2 linked regions of the Homo sapiens genome follow. The protein of the gene in region 2 interacts with the protein of the main gene of each other region in a pairwise test. Each region holds a gene or a part of one and is shown on either strand. Other genes may lie near its edges.

Region 1 (3,500 bases), on a different chromosome or scaffold from region 2:
AGCCATAGAAAGATTGGACCTGCCTGGCAGAGTTGGTAACTGGGCTTTTGTTATGATTCTGTTCCTCAGTAAGTGTAAACAATCTGCAGACATCATGTTCTCATTACATAAGCAAATCCCGTTAAGACCCAAGATAGAAACCGAACCTTTGATGAGCAAACCACTCTCCAGTGTAGGTGTCATTATTGATGTAGTAGTATACGCCATGGCCGTGCCGCAGGTCATTTGCCCACTCTCCTGAAAGGAACAACACAAAGGCAAGCCCAGGTGAGAAGAAGGGATCGATGCCCTGTACCATGTCTTCAAATTGTTAACCATGGCAAAGGCAGATGTGTTGTGAAGCAAATGAAGCCCATGCACACACAGGCCCCTTCTGCTCAGGAAATCCTGCAGAAGAGAGATTTTTAACAGCACCGACCAAGGCTGCTATCTGTTTCCACTCTGACATCCCTCCACCCCTTCCTTTTGTGCCAGATGGCATAGGTGCTGAGCCACGGTGGACAGTGGGCTAAGAGAGGGCTGAGTCAGGAGTTCACGGGGTACAGAGTGAGGTGTATGGATGTGGGCCACAGCCACCTGCATGTACTGACAAGCACATTTCACAGGTTAGTCAGAGGCACCACGAAGATGCAACGAGGAGGGAGACAAACCAAGGTTGTCTGACCCATTGCCAGTGATCCTAACACCACACTTCATTTACCTTGCAAATGTTTAGAGATCCAGCAACAACTCCAGGGCTTGACCATCTATCCTCAGCCACCTGGCAGCATTTCAGTCTATCTCCCACCCAATCATCTGACTCCAACATGCCACTCTAACCCCAGCTGCACACCAGCTCCATCCGCTGGTGCCATGCCTCTGTTTGAACTCTTCCCTCACCTCCTCACCTCCATACGGCTTCTGCTAAGTCCTTATAGGCTTGGTAGGCAGTACTGAAATTGGCAAGGATATCATAAAATTCATAATACCACTCCATGATGTGGACAACTGCAAACTACTTTTGTCAACCACAGTATGAATCCCTGCACTAGAAAACTCAAAACGTCCTCAAATCTTACAGCTCACTTAGGAAAGAAACTTAATAGAGGTCTCCCAAAGGTGACTGCTCTTAAAAACGTGCATATTACACCAAGTCATTAAGCTAAATGATATGTTTTGAGACTATGAATAATAAAAAGCAAATGTTGATCAATTTGTTGATCAAAGAGAAAAGAAGGAATTATATTTCTATTCTCTCTATAGAAAACATTACAAAATGGTTGCCATATGGAGAAGCATTCAAAGAGTATTAGCTAACAAAGGTAGAGAAAAGCTATTCTAGAAGTATGTCAGACATTAAAACTCAGGCTACTTAGATTCTGTGATGTTTGTGGTATTTTTAAATTTTTAACTTATTTTGATTTATCATTGCAAATGAAAATTCACTTTTATACCAACTTTATATTTTCTTTTTTTTAAAGAGGTTCTCAAAACTTACATAAGCTTCTGGCTTACACAAAAACTGGACCCACTTCCACATGAAGATAAAGAATACCCAATAGGCTAAGAAAATGCTAATTATTCAAGTAATATTTGTTTATGTGAATAACCCCAAAATTTATCTGCAGAAGGAACTTCTACATATTTATTTCCTCAATCATCCCATTATTTACTCAGCACCTACAATGTCCTGGGCACTTTGTGAGATGAACGAAGAGCTGTACAAAGGACAGTGCATGTCCCCAGGGCGCGAGCACCAGCCTGAGGATGGAAGGTTGGCACCTGAGCAGCAGCTGAGGACAGGGAAGGCAGCACGAAAAGCTGCATGGCACAATTTCAAAAAGTGGGTAAGTCATTCAGAAAAGAGCAGGCTTACCAAAAATTCATGGAGAGAGGGAAGGTGGCAACTGCTAACAATTAAGGAAGAGGACTAGGTCCCATGATGTGATGTGTGACAGGAACAATGTGAACAAGAGAGATGAAGATCCCCAAATTGAGATAATTCAGTAAAAAATACTTCAGGTCCCTGAACCTAAATTAACCATGAGGATGTGCAAATACCTAGAGGGATTTGTCTGGGTCTTAAGGGGCAGTGATGTGCCTGGATTTGTAACATTTGCCAGGTTCTGTGGTGTAAATACTCACACCGCGGCCAATTTCAAGCTACACATGGAGCTGGGAAGAGATGCACAGAATGGGTTTTTGTGAGCTACTATGAGGGGGTTCCAGCACAGCCCTGGGGCATAGAGACCTCAGCTGAAACAGGTACATCATTTGGTTTCTTCCCAACAAAACTTCATGACAAAATTATTACATCCCTCCTCTCTTGGCCATGTCAGAGGATCTCCAGGGTGTCATGGTGAGAAAAATATATTACATATTTTGCAGAAAAATTTCAAAAATAAAAGAGAACAGTTAAGTTGCAAAAGACACTAAATTTTGCACCAAGAGGACGGTGAGCAAAATTTTTTAAAGTCCCAATCTACTTAAAAAACCTGTTAAGAGGCTCGGCCCAGCATTTTGTAATGCCACCACAGGGACCCTGCACAAATAGAGAAGGTAATTCAGAGAAAAGTCACCTGCTGAGGCACATCTCTAACAGCTATAAGTCAAGTTTCCTTTTTTGAGGTGAGTGACATTTGTAAACTTTATTATTGTGGCTTTAAATTTGCACTTAATTTTTTTTTTAAAGTCTTTCTACCCCAATCCTATACTTTCTGATCATTCTTGAACTTGTCAACTGAGGTTTTTTCCAACTATATTTCTTCTCAGGAGTAACTCCCAGTTGGTTGGTTGGTTGGTTGGTTGGTTGATTTGTTGGTTAACTGGTTGGTTGGTTGGTTGGCTGGTTGGCTGGTTGGTTAGTTGGCTAACCGATTGGTTGGTTGGTTGGTTGGCTGGCTGGTTGGTTGGTTAACTGGTTGGCTGGGTGGTTGGCTAGTCAGTTGGCTGGTTGGTTGATTGGTTGGCTGTTTGGTTGGCTGGTTCGTTGGTTGTTTGGTTGGTTGGCTAGTCAGTTGACTGGTTTGTTGATTGGTTAGCTGTTTGGTTGGCTGGTTGGCTGGTTGGTTGGTTGGTTGGTTGGTTGGCTGGTTGGCTAATTGGTTGGTTGGTTAGACAGTTGGTTGGTTAATTGGTTGGTTGATTGGTTGCTTGGTTGGCTAGTCAGTTGGCTGGTTGGTTGATTGGTTGGCTGTTTGATTGGCTGGTTGTGGGTCAGTTGGCTGGTGTGGAGCAGGTGCTCCTTGGGTAGAGCAGTTTGTCTGGCACTTGGGATTGAAGACAATTTAAAATGAGAAGCTCTCCAAGATGCTCCTCCCCCCTCAAATGCTGGTTGGTCACTGGTTTGCCATGCTGGCCCATGGTCTTGCCAAGTTGGCTCCCTAAACTGCTGGGTCAGCCAAACACAGGAGAGAAGGAGCCCACACTTATGGGGAAACACTCGGTGTCAGACCCTGGGCAGGGTTCCGTGCACTTGCCACAGCATTTGGTATGTGTAATCGCTGAAATATGGTTTTACA
Region 2 (2,560 bases):
GAGACGGAGTCTCACTCTGCCGCCCAGGCTGGAGTGCAGCGGCGCAATCTCAGCTCACTGCAAGCTCCACCTCCCAGGTTCAAGCGATTCTCCTGCCTCAGCCTCCTGAGTAGCTGGGACTACAGGCACCCACCACCTCGCCTGGCTATTTTTTTGTATTTTTAGTAGAGATGGGGTTTCACTGTGTTAGCCAGGATGGTCTCGATCTCCTAACCTCGTGATCCACCCGTCTCGGCCTCCCAAAGTGCTGGGATTACAGGCATAAGACACCGCGCCCGGCCCCTCAGGTGATTCTTTAAGTGCAGCCAAGGTTGGGAGGTTGGAATCGTTGCTTTAAAAGGAAGAGTTATCACAAGAAAATCCAGCAAGGAACACCTAAGGGTTACAAAGGATGTACTAAAACATCAAACACCCAATTAAGTGACAGCCAGCATTATTTTTATTATTGACCCCATAACTGTCATTCATATCATTATTTCTGCTGCTCCTATAACCTCTACTGACACAAAGCATCAAAGTGAGGGAGGGAAGGATAGCAAAGAGGACACTTTCAAGTCCAGACTCACCAACAAAAAAACTTGAACTCTCTAAATACTGCATGACTAATTTAAGGCAGAAAAATAAGTGTCTTAAAGGAACAAGGGTCAAATTGGTTAAATGTGCCTTCATTTAGAAAAGAGCTATATTTTTTATACTCTTAATATAATTATAAATCAGACAATAATCTGTCTAAAAGGTTTGGTCATTATGTCAGTCAGCAGTTTCAAACAGAACATCCCAACACCCAATTAAAATACCAAGTGTGGCCAGGAGCAGTGGCTCATGCCTGTCATCTCAGCACTTTCAGAGGCTGAGGCAGGCGGATCACGAGGTCAGGAGATCGAGACCACCCTGGCCAACATGGTGAAACCCCATCTCTACCAAAAATACAAAAATTAGCTGGGCGTGTTGGCACGTGCCTGTAATACCAGCTACTCGGGAGGCTGAGGCAGGAGAATCGCTTGAACCGGGGCATCGGAAGTTGCAGTCAGCCAAAATGGCGCCATTGCACTCCAGCCTGGCAACAGAGCAAGACTCCATCTTAAAAAAAAAAAAAAAAAAAAAGTGTGGCCGGGCGCGGTGGGCTCACGCCTATAATCCCAACACTTTGGGAGGCCAACGCAGGTGGATCACGAGGTCAGGAGTTTGAGATCAGCCTGGCCAACATTATGAAACCCCATCTCTATTAAAAATATAAAGATTAGCTGGGCGTGGTGACAGGCGCCTGTAATCCCAGCTACTCAGGAGGCTGAGGCAGAGAATTGCTTGAACCCAGGAGGCAGAGTGCAGTGAGCCAAGATTGCGCCACGGCACTGCAGCCTAGGAGACAGAGCAAGACTCCGTCTCGAAAAATAAATAAATTAATTAAATTAAATACCAAGTGTATTTTAGGTCTTCCTTAAAAAATTATCTTGAGTAAATGTTTTATCTCCATACCTTTGGTTTCTTTAATGACAATAGCGTTTAATAATCCTTTTCCTCTTACGGCAGTTACAACATCAGAAGGTAGCTTCATGAGTTCATTTCTCAAGATAATGCCCAATTTGTCTGCATTTTCAGCAAGGTTTTCTTCTTCTAAAACCTACGTTTAAAGAAAAATTATACAAATATTAAGACTGTCCTTTTTTTGTTTTTTGGAGGACAACGGGGACTGTAAACACAGGAAAAACATGACTAGATAAAATACCAGAGGAACTTAACTTTCATTGCTATTTTTCAAAGCCTGTATTAGTTTCTAATTAAACATACACTAGCTCAGAGTCTTGCTTTCATCACAAATCTATTGCCAATCATTCATGGCAAAATAAGGATTAAAGTTTATTTAATGCAACTCACATACTGTCATTAATTGAATACATCAATGGACGAAATGTAATTCCTAAACTGCAATAGTTTCTTCCCCCCTCACAAAGATCTGTCCTCAGAGATTACATAATAATTGTATACCTTCAGCAGGCACTTAAAAAATCAGTCTGAAAACATTATAAATCCACACTTGAAAGAAGACTTGCTTGCTAAGCAAAAAGACGGGTCTGGTAGGTGGGTCACAGTTGAGAGTTCTATGAGGGCCAGCCAGGGCCGAAGAACTCAAAGCGCCAGGTGACTGTGAACTCAGGAAGCCCACGGAGGAAATCCAGTCTACTAGGCCAAGTTTAAATTACTTTTTGAGAATATCTTGTTCCTAAAATTTTTCCTCTATACTTCATGTTTTCTAATATTTGGCATTCTTATTGAATTTTTTATTATACCAGTGGGCCCAAATTAAAAATCACTTCAACATTGCTTTAAAGAATAGACACTGTGTGGCTGTATCAGTCTTTACCTCAAGGGCTGCGATGGCCACTCGGCAGCCTAGTGGATTGCCACCGTATGTGGACCCATGCTCCCCTGGCTTAATGGTCAGCATGATGTCATCATCACACAGCACTGCAGACACCTGAAAGACAGTCAATTCACCATGTCATTTCTCAGCACTAAGCATTCTACTAAGCATCCTTTTCCCCAGAGTCTCGCTGTCACC

The links. The genes of interacting proteins can lie anywhere in the genome.
Region 1: the proteins of OAT (region 2) and RSPH1 interact in a two-hybrid assay, tested with the Homo sapiens proteins (one large-scale study listed by BioGRID and IntAct).

Annotation. Positions count from the first base shown.
Region 1 is NC_000021.9:42,486,225-42,489,724, forward strand, and holds part of RSPH1 (radial spoke head 1 homolog), read right to left. Parts: intron 238-3,500; coding exon 147-237; intron 1-146.
Region 2 is NC_000010.11:124,399,364-124,401,923, forward strand, and holds part of OAT (ornithine aminotransferase, mitochondrial isoform 1 precursor), read right to left. Parts: intron 2,477-2,560; coding exon 2,363-2,476; intron 1,622-2,362; coding exon 1,477-1,621; intron 1-1,476. UniProt on the Homo sapiens protein: Catalyzes the reversible interconversion of L-ornithine and 2-oxoglutarate to L-glutamate semialdehyde and L-glutamate.